Linked DNA regions of Homo sapiens: region 1 is linked to region 2. Evidence: fine-mapped expression QTL. A gene starts in region 2. The other region holds a variant in brackets. All regions are shown on one strand. Distances are between the middles of the regions.

Region 1 (8,000 bases), 40 kb after region 2:
GGAGGATAGCTTTGAGCCCTGGAGGTCAAAGCTGCAGTAAGCCATGATCACAGTACTGCACTCCAGCCTGAGTGACACAGTGAGACCCTGTCTCAAAAAAAGAAAAAGAAAAAAAAAATCATGGAGAATGGCTGAAGAATTGGGACCCCTCAAATGCAGGCACAGTGGTTGGGAATGTTGATGATTGACAGCACATCCACTTGATGAAGTATTCTGCAGCAATTAAAGATAATTATGACAACTTCACAAAACATGAAGATTGTTTATGGTAACTAAAAACAGCCCAGTACAAAATCGTGCATTGACTATAATGACAACTCGTTAAAATATGGATTCACTGGAACAAAGACAAAGAAGAAACGGGGAAATGAAAGCAGCTGTGTTTTATGGTCTCTAATTAGAAGGAATGTTTTAAATGTTTCAAAATGCCCATTAATGTTTCTGGGTTTTTTTTATACTAAATCAGCTTTGATAAGGGGTTTGGGATAGGCAAATGAGACTAAGCTGTTGTCAAAGTTTTCTGCTTTAGTTGCACTGGGCGCTAGGGCTGGCTTAACTTCTTGGGAAAGTGTTAGCAAATATCTGGGCTTTTAAGGGGTAGAAAGGAACAGTTGTTGATGCAAGGAGGGGGAGCTTCTCAAACTCGGACTTGCCATCGTCTAGTGGTAAGTTTCTACTGATAGAGCACCAGACAGTGTGGCCTAGCAGGAAAGTGCATGGGCCTGGGAGCCAGACTGTCCAGGTTTAAATTCCTCTGTGCCACGCCATCGTGGTAGTACCTGCTTCGTAGAGTTATTGTGCTGATTTAGTGAGTTTAACGTAGATAAAATGCTTAGAACACTGCCTGGCGTACAAGGAGACGTCATTTAGTGTAAGCTATGATTATGGGCCCATAAAAAGAATTCTTAACCCTACTCCACAGAGGGTTAACTAAGGTTTAGAGAAGTTAAGTGACTTACCCAAGGCCACACGACTAGTTTAGAGGCAGACCTAAGTTCCAGCCCAGGTCTCCCTGACTCCAAAGGCCTTCCTCATTCTACTCTGTGAAGCTTCACACTGGAAGCTTGGCTGGGAGCACAGGGAGTATATACTCATATTCTTTATTTATGTATTTATTTATTTTTTTGAGATGGAGCCTCGCTCTGTCTCCCAGGATGGAGTGCAGTGGCGTGATCTCAGCAATTCTCCTGCCTCAGCCTCCTGAGTAGCTGGGATTATAGGCAGATGCCACCACGCCCAGCTAATTTTTTTTTTTTTTTTTTTTGTATTTTTAGTAGAGACCGGGTTTCACCATGTTGGCCAGGCTGGTCTCGAACTCCTGACTTCAGGTGATCCACCCGCCTTGGCCTCCCAAAGTGCTAGGGTTACAGGTGTGAGCCACCGTGCCTGGCCTCACATTCTTGACCAAATAGGTTGGTGAACAAGTGTCTCCCTCTTGGACCAACCCATTGTTTTAATGGGGATGCCCATGGAGCAGTGGAGTGGGAAGAAACCATCTCAGCCTGATGCATCTTGGCCCTCCAAGAAAGAGTGGATATGAGAGCAGCACGTCACCCTCAAAGCTTCAGCCTCAGGACAACAGGGAATTCCTTCTCAGTACTAGCCAGGGATTAGAGAGATTCACTCTGTGTTTCCCTTTTCCCCTGAACGTCTAACAGTAGTTTGGGAAATGCTGAATCATAGCTCAGTCATTCCCTTTCAACCCTGTGACTCTGGTGATGGCCCAGCCCACCAGGGTCTCCCGGTCTCGCCTACTTCTGTGGTCCCCACTGACCCCCCTGCTTGCTGCCTTCCACAGCTGGTGGAGATCATTCTGTTCTGCTTGCTGCTCTACTTCTACAAGGAGAAGAACGCCAACAACATTGTCGTGATTCTTCTCTTGGTGGCGTTACTTGGTAAGTTGGCATCTGGATGATTGAGTTTTGCCACCACCAAGAAGCACCAAATGGAAATGTGGGTTTTGTTTGCAGAGCTGTAGCCGCTGGGCACAGAAGTTGCTTGAGACTGGCTGAGGTTGTTCTGTCTCCATCAGTGGCTCTGGGGAGCTGGGTCCCTGCTGACCGGAGGCAAACTCCTGTGCTCCAGGAGCCTCCAATCTAAAGGGAGAAAATAGCACTAAACAACTAGCCAAATTCATAGGTCATGTAAGTTTGGGCAATAACAATTCCAATGAGGAAGAATAAAGTAGAGTGAGGATGAGGTGAGTTAGTTTGTTTCAGAGACGGTAGTAGTAGAGCATGCCCCAGCGATTGAGCCCTGAAAAGATCCATGCAAAACCTATCAGAGCTTAGGGATTCATTCTGATTCAAAGGTAAAACTAGATTTTGTCATCTATTTTTTCTTTTCCTTTTAGAGGGATGGGTGCTGTGGAAGAGATAGCTCCTGAATCAGCTTGAGGCTAGAACTGCATATTAATTTTTCCTTTTTTTTTTTTTTTGAGACAGTCTTGCTCTGTCACCCAGGCTGGAGTGCAGTGGTACAATCTTAGCTCTCTGCAGCCTTGACCTCCTGGCCTCAAGTGATCCCCCTGCCTCGGCCTCCCAAAGTGCCAGGATTACAGGCATGAGGCCCTGTACCTGGCTAGAACTGCATATAATTTTATAGCTAAATAGAGCTGTGGGGAATCCATCCTTCCTGAGGAGAAGCAGACAGAGGCGGAGGAGCAGGCTGGTGTCAGGGCTGGTGAAGCCTGCTACCGCGCTGCTCTTGAGTGGCCTCAGGCTAATGACCCTCCCTCCTTAAGCCACGCTGTCCACTTCTCTAAAGGGGGGGCCTATGAGAACATCCAAGTCACGGAAGGGAGTGGGGGTTAAATGAGATGTGCACAGGTGGCTAATATGTGCATTTTTCTTCCAACCTTCCTACTGTGTGCCCTACCACCGCCACAAGCCATCAACCAAATAGATACCTGTCACCGAAGACAGGGTTTCCTTAATTTTTTAACAGCTCTGTTGAGATATAATTTACATACCATAAAGTTCACCTGTTTAAAGTATACAATTCAGTGGTTTTTAGTATTTCATAGAGTTGTGAAACCATCATCCTAATCTAATTTTAGAACATTTTGTCACCCCCAAAAGAAACCCTGTGCCCATTAGCAGTCACTCCCTGTTCCCCTTTTCCCAGCCTCAGGCAACCACTAAGCTATCTTCTGTCCCTGTAGATTTGCCTTTTTGAACACCTTCATAAATAAAGTCGTATGCTTTGTGGCCTGATATGACTGGCTTCTTTCACTGAGCATGATGATTCTGAGGTTCACCCACATCATAGCATGAATCAGTCCTTCATTCCTCGGTGACTTTGTTTTCAAAGTGGATGGGAAGGATCACGGCCCTGAAACATCCTCTCCTCTTACGTAGGAAGGCCAGAAGGTTCTGAGGCCATTGGCCAATCCCCTTCTGACTAAGAAGGACTACCTGATGACAAGTGCCTAAGTGGTTGCTGACGTTTGGAAACAGTAGCCTAATGGGTGAGGAGCCCAAGAGACACTGCGTGTTGGGGGTGTTGGCAGGAGAAAGCGAAATAAACCAAAGCTGAAGAATAGGAAAGCAAAGCACAGCAGCAGGGACCGGGGGCTTCACCTGGACCACGCTTGGGGGCTGTCTCTAACTCCTGTTTGGCAGGGCAGTCTGAAAGTCTGCAGTTAGAAGACATTTCTGAACAGTAGGGTGGAGCAAGGGTCTCCACAGGGAGGTGAGCAGGATGCTTCGCTGGGTACACAGAGAGAATATTAGAACTTCAATCATTTTTTCTC[T/C]GCCTTTTAAATTATATTCCTGTACAAATTTTATAACATGCCTACCATTTAAGTTCAGGGTCACATGACTTTAATTTGAAAACAGATACACACATATTGGAAATGTTTGCACATATGCACAGGGGTGTGCATTCCAAAACACTGGAGAAATGTTTTTAAAAATACAAGTGACCAGCTGGGCGCGGAGGCTCACGCCTGTAATCCCAGCTATTAGGGAGGCAGAGATGGGAGGGTAGCTTGAGCCCAAGAATTCAAGACCTGCCTGGGCAATATAGCGAGACCCTGTTGTCCACAAAAAGGAAAAAAAAAAATACAACAACAACAAAAAATACAAGTGACTGAGCACTAAAAAACCCAACAATTCCTAAGCTGTTTACCCAACACATGTTTTTCCTGTGGTTGCCATGAGACTGGTAAGTTCGTTGATCCACTCGGATCCTTTTGGCCACAGTGCTGGGCACTCCGGGCCTCAGAGAACTGAACTTACTGCCCATGCTTGGCAGTTTAGAAGTGATGTCTAGGATTACCTTCAGGGGGTTGGCTTTCCTCCCTCCTTTAGGATGTAGTCAGCACAGAGCATGGGAGTCCATGGGAGAGGTGCACACGAGACCCAGTGCAAACGGCGTCTGTCACTGTGCAAACTGCCGGCTTGACTCTGTTCCTGTTCCCTCCCCTCTGTCTCCCCAAGTCCTTTGGGGTTATAGACTGGCTTTCCGGACCTAACTCTCTGCATTTCCCTGAGGCTCCCCATTCGCCCTTGTCTCCCATCTGCAGGCTCCATGACAGTGGTGACAGTCAAGGCCGTGGCTGGGATGCTTGTCTTGTCCATTCAAGGGAACCTGCAGCTTGACTACCCCATCTTCTACGTGATGTTCGTGTGCATGGTGGCAACCGCCGTCTATCAGGCTGCGTGAGTTACAAATCCTTTTCCTGCTGGGCCCTGCCATTCGGGCTGCTTCTCTTTTGGGGGCCTGATGACGTATGCTGTGAAGCCACAAGGAGGCCAGAACATGCCCCAGGGCCTGGCATCCAGCATGGAGAGAGGAGCTGCTAATTTGCTGAGTTGTCACCTGGAGGGACACCTGCCACTCAAAAGACGAAGCCAGGCCAGGCTCAGTGACCCACGCCTGTAATCCCAGCTCTTTGGGAGGCTGAGGTGGGTGGGTCACTTGAGGCCAGGGGTTTGAGACTAGCCTGGCCAACATGGTGAAACCCCGTCTTTACTAAAAATACAAAAAAATAAAATAAAATTAGCTGGGCATGGTGGCACATGCCTGTAGTCCCAGCTACTCAGGAAGCTGAGACACAGAATTAAAAAAGAAAAAAGAAAGAAATACGAAGCCAGCAGTGGATGGATTTTTCCCCACTCCCTCAGAATGTGATAATTTTTGTTTGTTTGCTTGTTTGTTTGTTTTTTGAGATAGAGTCTCACTCTGTTGCCTAGGCTGGAGTGCAGTAGAGCCATCTCGGCTCACTGTAACCTCTGCCTCTGGGGTTCAAGCGATTCTCCTGCCTCAGCCTCCCAAGTAGCTGGGACTACAGGTGTATGCCACCACACCCGGCTAATTTTTGTATTTTTAGTAGAGACGAGATTTCACTTTGTGGGCCAGGCTGGTCTCAAACTCCTAACCTCAAGTGATCCACCCACCTTGGCCTCCAAAGTACTGGGATTACAGGCATGAGCCACAACACCTGGCCAGAATGTGAGAAATTTGTGGTTGGAGGCAGCCTTACTTCCCATCTTCTCCGGGGCAGATGATCGTCTCAGGGGCCTCGGAAGCATGGCCATCCCTAGGAGGCACCTGCTTGTCTGCTGGGTTGGAAAGAAAAGTTGTCATTTCTTGACTTCAGTATATCACCTCCAAATCTTCCTGAGTGGAAGGCAAAGTGCCCCCTCCTCTTTCTAAGCATGAAGTTAAATAAAAGGCAGCAGCCTGAGGGCAGGGCCTGTGTCTTGTTTGCGTTTGAGTCCTGGAGCCCAACAGAGGGCCTGGGAGGAGAGGCTCTAGGAATCTTGTAGGTGACAAAACCTGTGTAGGTACACAGGACTCAGCAGCGCACAAGGCTGATTCAACCTGGGAAGCTCAGGCTCAGACTGAAGGTCCACCAGCTACATGGCCTCCAGGCACCATAGGAGCAGCTGCTGCTGGCCCGGTGTGAGCCCAGCTCTTTTCTCAGTGCTTTATGGAACCAGCTCATTTGGTCCTTACAACACTCCTTTGATGTACAGGATATTATCCCCATTTTGCATACGAGGAACTGATGCGGAGAGAGTAAGAGGCTAGAAAGTGGCGGAGCTGAGATCTGAACCCAGGTGTCTGGCTCCCCAGCCCATGCCCTCACTGCTCTGCTCTTCTGTCGCCTACTCAGCTTCTCCAAGACAGATTCTTCACCTGCTAATGAGAACAACAGTCCCTACCTAAGAGAATCACATGAAGCTCTTATGAGAATGTCTCTAGGGAAATGCCCGGTAAACATGAGCTGCTTCTATGATTATTGGCCTTGCTATTGTTATTTTGGTTATTATTTTTGGTCCCACTACAACAATTCCAGTCATCACCTGGAAGCCCCTGCCAGTCAAAGGCCCTGTGCTGAGCACTCCAGGTGTCACAAACATGGCTCAGATGCCACCGCCCACCTCCTAAGGAGCTACTCATTCCCTAGCCAGTGCAGCCCACTGAGGGTGCTCAGCACACAGAGATGATGAGGGTAGTCACTCACTGCCCTCAGGCATTCACGGCCCTGGCTGGGGGACAGCCAGTGAAGAAACTAGTACAGCCAAGCTGCATGCAGTGGCTCACACCTGTAATCCCAGCTACTCAGGAGGCTGAGGCAGGAGCATTTGAGCCCCGTAGTTAGAGGCTGTGGTGAGCTGTCATTTTGCCACTGCACTCCAGCCTAGGCCACAAAGCGAAGTAAAAAAATAAAAGCAATTGAGTGGTGAGCATGGTGTAAGCAACTATGCAGAGAAAGGGCAAAGAATATCTTCCAAAACAAGGGTATTGTTTATCATAGATGGAGTGATTAGGAAGGACTCTAATTTTCTCTTTTTCCTGTATTTATTTCAGTGATCACATTATTTTCAAATTAAAAAGAAATTTTGTTTAAAAGAATAATTATGACACTAGGCAGAACGTGATTAGTGCTGTAAGAGTTTCTGGGGGCAGGGGTATAAGAGATGCAGGAATGGCTCTTTTTAGTGGGGTGGGGATACGGGGGGTGAGGAGAAGGGCATTTCAGGTGACAGGAGCCGTGCAGCCAAAGGTGTGAGACCATGATGGCATGGTTCAATTGGGAAATGGGGATGGGCCTTAGCTGTGTGTCTAGGGGAAGAGTGGGAATCAAGTATGGGCCCCAGACTAGGGATACACAATGTCCTGTAACATGAGGGTGGCATTTTTAGAAACCCAAGGAACATTCCTAAATGTATCATCTTCATATTTCAAACCAAACTCTACTGTTGTCAGCTCTTAGCCTTTCCAACGTCTCCACAGCCCACTGACTGGAGTGCTTTTGTGTTGAAGGTTTTTGAGTCAAGCCTCACAGATGTACGACTCCTCTTTGATTGCCAGTGTGGGCTACATTCTGTCCACAACCATTGCTATCACAGCAGGTAAGGGTGACCCATTGCTAGATTTCTGTCTTCTACTTTAGCAGCAGGGTATTATCCCAGGGCAGAGGGAGGCTGATTCTGCTGACTTGTTCTCCCCGTAGAGTGATTTATGGGTTCATGGAGAATGTGCAGGATTTCCAGACAGAGAGACCCGGGTTTGTATCCCAGCACAGACGCACATCAGCTCTGCAAACATCACTTAACCTCTCTGAGCCTCAGCTCCACATTCATAAAATGGGAGTGATAACACTTAGCTCCTAGAATTGTAATGGGTATGATCCAAATGTGCCCTATGCCATACTGTGTGTACTTTAACAAGTTTTGCTATCTTCTAGCTCCACAACCCCCACTGGCTAAGTGACCACAAATCTCTTCTGTATAATTTTAGAGATTATGAATATGCATAGCACTGCAACATCATCAATGCTCAATAAGTGATCATTAGCATTACAGCCCCCTTTTCCTCTATTTCACCTCTAATTTTTTTTTGCATTTTCTTTCTGTAGTGGCCTCAGAGGCTGCAATCATATAAAGCTGTTTGTTAATTTGTTTAAATGGCATAATAGGTGACTAAAATCTTCAGAGTAAAAAATCCAATAAGAACTAAGTGCTTTCCTTTGGTGAAAGCCTGGC
Region 2 (8,000 bases):
CAGGATGGTCTCGAAATCCTAGCCTCAAGTGATCTTCTCACCTCAGCTTCCCAAAGCACTGGGATTACAGTGAGCCACCGTGCCTTACCTGGTTGGGTTTCTGAAGTTACAATATTGCATATAGTTTTCAAAATATAAAGCAAATAAGGGATGGCTGGGTGGGGGCAAATATTTGACTCTCTTGAATATTCACAGAATGCTAGGTTTCATCAGAACACAGTTTAAAAACTCCTGGGGGAAGTTCACTGTTGGACAGTTCTAATTGCTAGAAAGTTCCTTCCTGTATCAAAGCTGATTCTCTCTCTCTTTTTTTCTTTTTCTATCCGTCCTAATTCCCACCCTTGGAACCAACTCAAAGTAAGTCTCATTTCTCTTCCACATTGGTGATTTTCAAAATGCAAGTCATAGTCTGTAGTCTTTTGTGAAGTTTTAGTTTGTCATATGCGTGTGTGCATGCTGGGTCACAATATAAAATGCATTTACCATGAGTCACAGTCAAAAGGTTTGAAAGCCACTGTTCTATATGACTATTCTGCAAGAATTTGAAGGCAGTTGTCGTGCCCCACCACCTAAAGACTAATCTTCTTCTCCACATGGGACCTCCCTGGCTTTTGCCACATATCTCCTTGCTGCATGGGGAGCTCCTTTCCTCACCGGACCCAGGCATCGTCCTGCAGTCCTGTCACAAAATTCACGAGACTCTCTGCTCAAACCTTCTTAGGGATGACTTCCCTGACCACCCTCTCTTAAGAAGCACCAACCCATCTCTCTCTAGCCCCTTACTCTGCTTTATCTTTTTCAAAGCACTTTTCACTACCCAACATTATATTGTATGTTTATTACTTTATTTGTTTATGATCTTCCCCAGTAGAAAGTTCAACTCTGAATCTTCAGTCTATTTCCTCACATACAGTATTTGCTCAATTGGCCAGGCATGGTGGCCCACACCCGTAATCCCAGCACTTTGAGAGGCTGAGGGGGAAGGATGGCTTGAGACAGAAGTTCAAGACTACCCTGGGCAACATAGCAAGGCCCTGTCTCTACAAAAATAATAATAATAGTATTGAGAATTTTTAAAATTAGTATTTTCTTCATAAATATTGGTGGAATGAATGAATGAATGAATACTAGAGGTAGACACCTTTTAGCAATTGTGTGTACAGCTGTGCTCAGAATATATTTCCAGCGGGAGTTAGATTCTACAAGGACAGCTCACATGATCACAACTATAGGCACAGTTTCATTTTATCATCTCTTGTGTTTTTAAAAAACGTTATATATGCTAAGTATTACAGTTTACATTATACATGTTACTGTACAGGGTATATAAACATGTACTAAACTATGTATACTGTTACTTTAGATAGAATTTTTTTGGATGTCCTGAGTAGTTTCGTCTGTAGGCGATTTTTATCTACTCAGTTATAAGCATCTTGGAAGCAGCTTACATTTTTTCAAAGCACTCTCAGGTAAATAACCCATTCGATAGTCTTCATAGGCTGAGAAAGTGTATCAGGGAGCTGGAAGGAAATTTAGCGGCGGGCTAGTGACCACCAGGTTCCAATCTCACCCTTTTATTTTACAGATGGGTAAATCGAGGCCCAGAGCAGGGAAGTCGTTTGCTGGGGGACACCCCCTGAGCTGGGGTGAACCTATGAGTAGAGATCAGGTCTTTGGCGTCCACCCACTGCCAGGCACTGAAGCCTCCCAACTTTTGCGCACTCGCGGAGCCTGAGCCAGAAGGGTCGGACGCCCACGCCCCTGGCAGGAGCTCGGTGGAGCAGGCAAGCCCCAGTTGTCACCACTTTTCGGGTGGAAACACCGAGGACACGCCCCGACGCAGGGGCAACTCCCATGGTGGCTTCTTCCCGCCCTCGGGGCTCCACCTAGCTCAGCCCTGGAATTCCGCAAGCACCCGGAGGCCGGGGGGTCTCCGCGGGCGTCCCATGCGGAGGACATGGTGCGCCGTGTCCTCTTCCCCACGACCTCAGGGACCGGTCCCCCCGCCGGAACTGCTTCCTACCTGGTCCGGTCCCGGCAGCTGAATCTGGCCAGCCCAACCTCCCGGTCGCTATGGCACCCACAGGCCTAACATTCGCGAGTCCACCTTCCGCCGTCCGCGAGGTAACTCCAGCCAATGGCATCCTCTGTTTCTTTAACGTGAAAAGTTGTTGACCAATCATTAGAGGCGTTTCAAAGTCCGCAGAGAAGCCGGCCGAATTTTAGGGCTTAGGTTAATTACATCAGGGCCTGTAGCGGGGTGGGGAACTAATAAGAGGTTTATCTAGGCCATGCTTCAAAAATCTTGTGATAAACCAAAAGCCTCAGAATTTTGCTCACTCAAAAATCCTGCTTCAAGGAATATACCTAAAAGAATTAACATTCATCCAAGCCCTGTTTCTTTTTTTTTTGAGACAGAGTCTCGCTTTGTCGAGCAGGCTGTAGTGCAGTGGCGCAATCTTGGCTCACTGCAACCTCCGCCCTCCAGGTTCAAGCGATGCTCCTGCTTCAGCCTCCTGAGTAGCTGGGATTACCGGCGCTCGCCACCACGCCAGGCTATTCTTTTTGTATTTTTAGTAGAGACAGGGTTTCACCACGTTGGCCAGGCTGGTCTCGAACTCCTGACCTCAGGTGATCCACCCGCCTCGGCCTCCCAAAGTGTTGGGATTACAGGCGTGAGCCACCACGCCCGGCCCCAAGCCCTGTTTCTAACAGAAGAAAAAAAAAAAAATTGACATGGGCGACTATACAAGGGCAGCCACTTAGTATTCCAGGAGCCCCTCTTCACACGCTTCAGGGCAGGGCGGTCTCAGCGACCTTGTCACTCCCCTGCTTAAAGTCCTCCAATGGCTCGCCTTTAAATTTAGGGTGAAATCCAAGCTTTTTTTTTTTTTTTTTTTTTTTTGACAGGGTCTTGCTCTGTCGCCCAGCTGGAGTGCAGTGGCGCGATCTCGACTCGCTGCAACCTCCGCCTCCCGAGTTCAAGCGATCCTCCCGCCTCAGCCTCCTGAGTAGCTGGGACCACGGGCGCTCGCCACCACGCCCGGCTAATTTTTAAATTTTTTTGTAGAGATGGGGTCCCACTATATTGTCCAGGCTGGTCTCAAACTCCTGGGCTTAAGTGATCCTCCTGGCCTCCCAAAGTCCTGAGATTACAGGTGTGAGCCACCGCGCCGGCCCCCAAATATGTTATTTATAAACTGTCCCTGGCCCGTCCCTCAGATCGCAGGCCCAACCACGCCCCCAGAAAAATCTCTCACCAGCCCTGCTGGCCTTCGGGCAGTTTCTACAATGCACCAACTCGTTCCTCTCCCATGTTCCCAAGGAGCTTTCTCTGCCCCACGATCTGAGACTAGAACTGCCTCTTTCTCATTGTTGATGTCTAGGCCCAAATGACATTTCTTCATACGTAAAACGGGCTTCAAGTCTCACTCATGGCTGTGACGATCTGAAAGCAAATGCGTGTATATGACAACGTGTGAGCGATGAGAAGCTTGTCATCTGTAAAACTCCATGCGCATGTTAATTATCATGGCCGTGATAATTATGTACATTATAGAAACATTAACCAAGCGCTGGGCTCGTTTCAGGACCTTCAGTATTGCTGGGAGGCTTGGTATCCGACAGGTGTTCCAGGAGGGCAGGAAAGGAGAGATATGTTTGGTCCCAAGTCTCGCGAGGGCTCTGGGGAGCGCTGGGTCTTCAAGGACGTTTTGGATTTGAATACTTGGTGAGAGCGTCGGGTAGGGGAACAGCAGGAGCAAAGCCCGGAAGGTGGCTATGAGGATAAGAAGGGAGGACACCTGGCAGGCTGCTAAAACCAGGCCCACCTGCCGGGCAGGTGGAGGCGAGCAACCACCTAAGCTCTCTGGGACAGCGGGAGAGGGGGCAGGGGAGTCGCCGCACCATTCTTCCTGTGGCCGCTAGGGGGTCCCCGCTCCAGGTGAGCGCCAAGCTCTAGCCCCAGGTCGCTCCCTTATGCTTCAAGCAAGCTTTGCAGCGCAGCCAATTGCCAGGGGCTGTCCCGCCTACTCCCCGTCCTCGCAGCCACTTGCCTGCGCGAAATGCCTGCCAACTTCTGACTGGCAGGCAGTCTGGCAAATCAAATCGCGACCTTTGAAAGCAAAACACTGCAGCATCTTGGCAGCTCTGAATTGGGAAGGGATGAAGGAGGCTGTGCCTCCGGGTTGCACGAAGAGTCCGAGTCATTTCTCAGAAGGTTTTGATAGGTGGGCCTTAGAGGAGACGCCGCCGGTGAGTAGTGATTAACACCGGGAGGAAGGGGAATTGAATTTAACCTTCGTTTTTTTCTGGAAAAAGCGAAGTCACCTAACGTCCCCTAGTGTACATACCCTTCCTTCTTACTGTCACCAGCCTCGCCAACCTGGGTCCCGTTGCCTTGGAATGTTCTTTCCAGTTTTGCATCGAGGCCAAGAGGAGCGGGGGCATGGGCTACCTTACTAAAGGTGATGCCAGGCTCTACCAAACCAGGAAGTGACATGGAGTTAACTTTGCCAGAATTTCTCCTCTTCGTGCCGAGCGGCTCGGGCTTCCTGGCGGCAGCAGATGGTGGAGTTAGCAGGTGGGATGAGGGGAGGCGTTCTTGGTCTAAGCCCGCTTCTGGAACAGAGGTGCTGTCTCCTCGAGTTGTAAGTTTCCAGCTCAGTGGGACGGGACGGAAGAATGTAACCTTCTCGTGAGCCAAAGCCGAGGAACGGGAAGCTTGGCAGGGAACTGGCGCTCACCTCCAGAAGCCAGATCGTCGGGTGGTGGGAAAGAGCGTGTTTTATTGATTTGTTCAGAAAGAGGCAAATTCGAATACAGACGCTATGAGCCACGGCTGTCTCATTTGTAAAACGTGCTCTGTGGGATTGGTGAAATCCGTCATCGAGATAAACGGGGTGGGAATGGAAGCAGAGCACCTAGTGAATTCTCATTCCTTCCTTGGGTCAGTGACCACGTGCTCTAATTGTGGGGTGGTTGACAACGCAGAGGTGACTGCTTGCCTCTCGGGCATATGTAGGTCCTGAAGAAATGCTTCGAAATCAGGAAAAGAGAGTCACCAGGTGAAAAGTATGTGTCTTATAAGGGAGTACAGCTTGCAAAGGGTTCCTCCAGGCTTTCAGTCCGGACTCCCACCCAGCTGAGGGAGAGCCTTCAATCTTTGCAGGCGATGCTTCAGAGGCCTGCGAGTTCCTGAGGCAGAGAGGGAAGCTGCTTTTTAAAAGAAAAATTAAACCACAGCAATGCCAACCACCACAAACAAAAGCAAAACCAGAAAAGCACTTGGGCAAACTACTCTGAAGGATGTTAGGAGGCCTGGGTTCCCACCACTCCCTTGATTGACATGTCGCTAAGGTCTGTTGGCTTTCTCTGACCTCCTGTGGGTGGGGCTGAGTATATCTGCTTGTTGAAGCTCTGGAGTTGTGGTTGATTAGGCCTTAGAAAGGCATTCTTGACTGCGAAGGGGCCACAGTGCACCCAGTGCTTAACCAGCCTGCATTTAGTCAGTCGGTTGGTATGTATACAAGTCACTGTCAGGCTCTGGGCTAGATCTCATTTAGTCAGTTGGTTGGTATGTATAGAAGTCACTGTCAGGCTCTGGGCTAGATCTCAGCTGGGAGCAACTGAACAGGGTATTCCGCAAACACCTCACTGGAGTTTGCGCTCCTCAACTCCATGACTGCTTCATGGTTGAATGCTTCCCGGGGCCTCTCAGAGGTAGAAAGAACCCTGAGCCACTCTTAAGGCTCTTATGATTATTACAAATGCTAAAACATTTTTACAGAAATGTAACACAATAATGCTTTTCACATGTACGTGAAAGTATAGTGAACAATTATGCTTTCCACAAGATTGCAAACACATATTCATAGGGTTTTACAGGCAGGGAAGTCTAGCTATGGGATGTGAATTACCTGATAAAGTTACCCGGTGAATGCTTACATCTCATGTCTGTATATTGGATATATAACCTCGTCTGCAGGTAGTAGCAATAATTTCATCCTGAGGCCCTCTGACAAAGTGAAACCAAGCCAAATGGTTTCTGTAGCTGTCCCTATGCTAAACCTGCATTTGTTGTATCCCAGGACTGGACATGGTGTTCCCCTTATCACATATGTATGTGCTGTCCACACCATGAACCAGAATTCCTGGGCCTAGGGCCGGATAGCAGAAGGAACTGGAAGCTACAGGATACACAGGAGGCAGCTCTCTGAAGCCTCAGGGAGTGGCAGAAATTGTTTAGCTCACAGTGAGCCCTCAGTAAATATTTGTTGGATGAATGCATGAGAGAGAAAGGAATGGACAAAATAAATAATTAAACAGGAGAGAATAAAATTAATCTTAACAGCAGCTCACATTCATGGACCATTTGCTATGCCTGCATTTTACATGTATGATTTCATCAAATTCTCATGACTGCCATGTGGAGTGGGAACATTATTATCTATATTTCACAGCTGGAGAAACTGGCTGAAAAGTTAAATGACCTGGCAAAGGTAAAACAGGTAGCACATGGCACATCAAAAGCAATTTAAAACATTTTTCTATTAAAATAAACATAGACTATGCAGTAGAATACATTTCTAAAAAATGTATAAAAAGTCCTCAAAGAAAACCCTAACACTTTTAAGCAGGGTTTTGGCCATGCCTCCTAGGACACTAGAAGTATACTTTCTCTTCTCTGTTTGGTAGCAAATTTTGAGAAGTGGCACACACCTGTAATCCTAGCACTTTGGGAGGCTGAGGCAAGTGGACTGCTTGAGCCTAAGAGTTCAAGACCAGCCTGATAACATGGCGAAACCCTGTCTCTACAAAAAAATTAGCCAGGCCTTGTGGCACGCGTCTGAGGTCCCAGCTACTTGGGAGGCTGAGGGAGGATTGCTTGAGCCCAGCTTGAGGCCATGTTTGTGCCACTGCACTCCAGCTTGGATGACAGAGTGAGATTCTGTCTCCAAAAAAAGGAAAAGTTCGGGAAGCACTGAAAATATAAGTCCGATGAAATTAGTAGGGATTCTCATCATTGCTGGGTTTATTTGAGGCCACATTATTACCCCCACTTTACAGAGGAGGCAACTGAATCTCTGAGAGGCAGAGTTACCTGGTCACACAGGTTTTCCACCTCCGAGACCAGTGTCACCTCACCTGTGTCAGGCCAATCCTCGGTAGCAGGCCAGTTCTTCTGTTTTCCATGGATGTAGCTTTTCTTCTGATTCTTTTCTTCCTAAGCTGAAACTTAAATAGTTCCCTTTTCGTGGTAGTGGAATTGTTTTTTTTTTTTTTTTGAGACCTGGAGAAGTTAGTATTCTACTTCTTGTGCTCAAGAGCTATGGAAAAAGGGAGGATTTAAGTTAGGGTGCGATGGGAGGAAGGAAGCAGAGTGGAGGAGGAAAGGGAACATTAAGGGCCAGGGAGAAAGCTTTTGAGATAGATGAGTCAGGTTTGTATTAAGGGGAGGACAAAGGCATGATAGGACTTGTTTTTAACTGCTAGAATTGAATTTTGAAGAATTTTTTTAATGGACTCACTTGTCATGGCCGGTTACGTTTTATCTGAATGGTATTCTCTTCTCAGATAACAAAGCTGGGCTCAGTGTTTCCTTGTCCATGCATTTTTAATGTTCCTCTCCACCACCCTAGAGCACCGCAAGAACTGGAAAACACACCCCTCTCTGTCTGCCTGGGAGAGCCACGGAAATTGGCACTTCTCTGAGTGAAGCTGAGGAGAAGGCTGTAAATCTGCCAAAACAGCCTTGAAGTATTCTTTTGTCATGAGGAAGTGACGGCTGCTGGAGGGAGGTGAACACCACAAGGAGAGATGGCATCTGGCCTGGGCCCCGCCTAGCAGCAGCTCCACCTCCTAGGCCAGGCCCTGTGGGATGCGCCACTAGACCACCATGGACGGATCCCACAGCGCAGCCCTGAAGCTGCAGCAGCTGCCTCCCACAAGTAGCTCCAGCGCCGTAAGCGAGGCCTCCTTCTCCTACAAGGCAAGGGCTT

Alleles and levels. Alleles are on the strand shown, and positions count from the first base shown. SD is a standard deviation of normalised expression in the study named.
For the expression in B cells of the gene that starts at base 4,152 in region 2, allele C in region 1 goes with a lower level than allele T (large effect, 1.3 SD a copy in Fairfax 2012).

What was found.
Region 1: its variant is fine-mapped to the expression of NIPAL3 in B cells (Fairfax 2012, PIP 0.90).

The regions. Positions count from the first base shown.
Region 1 is chr1:24,451,610-24,459,609 of GRCh38, forward strand. It overlaps NIPAL3 (NIPA like domain containing 3), which reads left to right. Exons shown (of 12, transcript NM_020448.5): 7 at 1,799-1,895; 8 at 4,529-4,664; 9 at 7,279-7,367. Among named protein-coding and RNA genes, the nearest start is that of NIPAL3, 40 kb to the left of the region's middle. RefSeq lists enhancers at 4,204-4,716, 6,000-6,501. The variant T/C (reference allele first, on the strand shown) is at 3,755.
Region 2 is chr1:24,411,651-24,419,650 of GRCh38, forward strand. NIPAL3 (NIPA like domain containing 3) reads left to right here and starts at 4,152. Exons shown (of 12, transcript NM_020448.5): 1 at 4,152-4,254; 2 at 7,641-7,990. The coding sequence starts at 7,898. It overlaps STPG1 (sperm tail PG-rich repeat containing 1), which reads right to left and starts at 2,132. Exons shown (of 9, transcript NM_001199013.2): 1 at 2,024-2,132. RefSeq lists enhancers at 1,628-1,747, 6,934-8,000.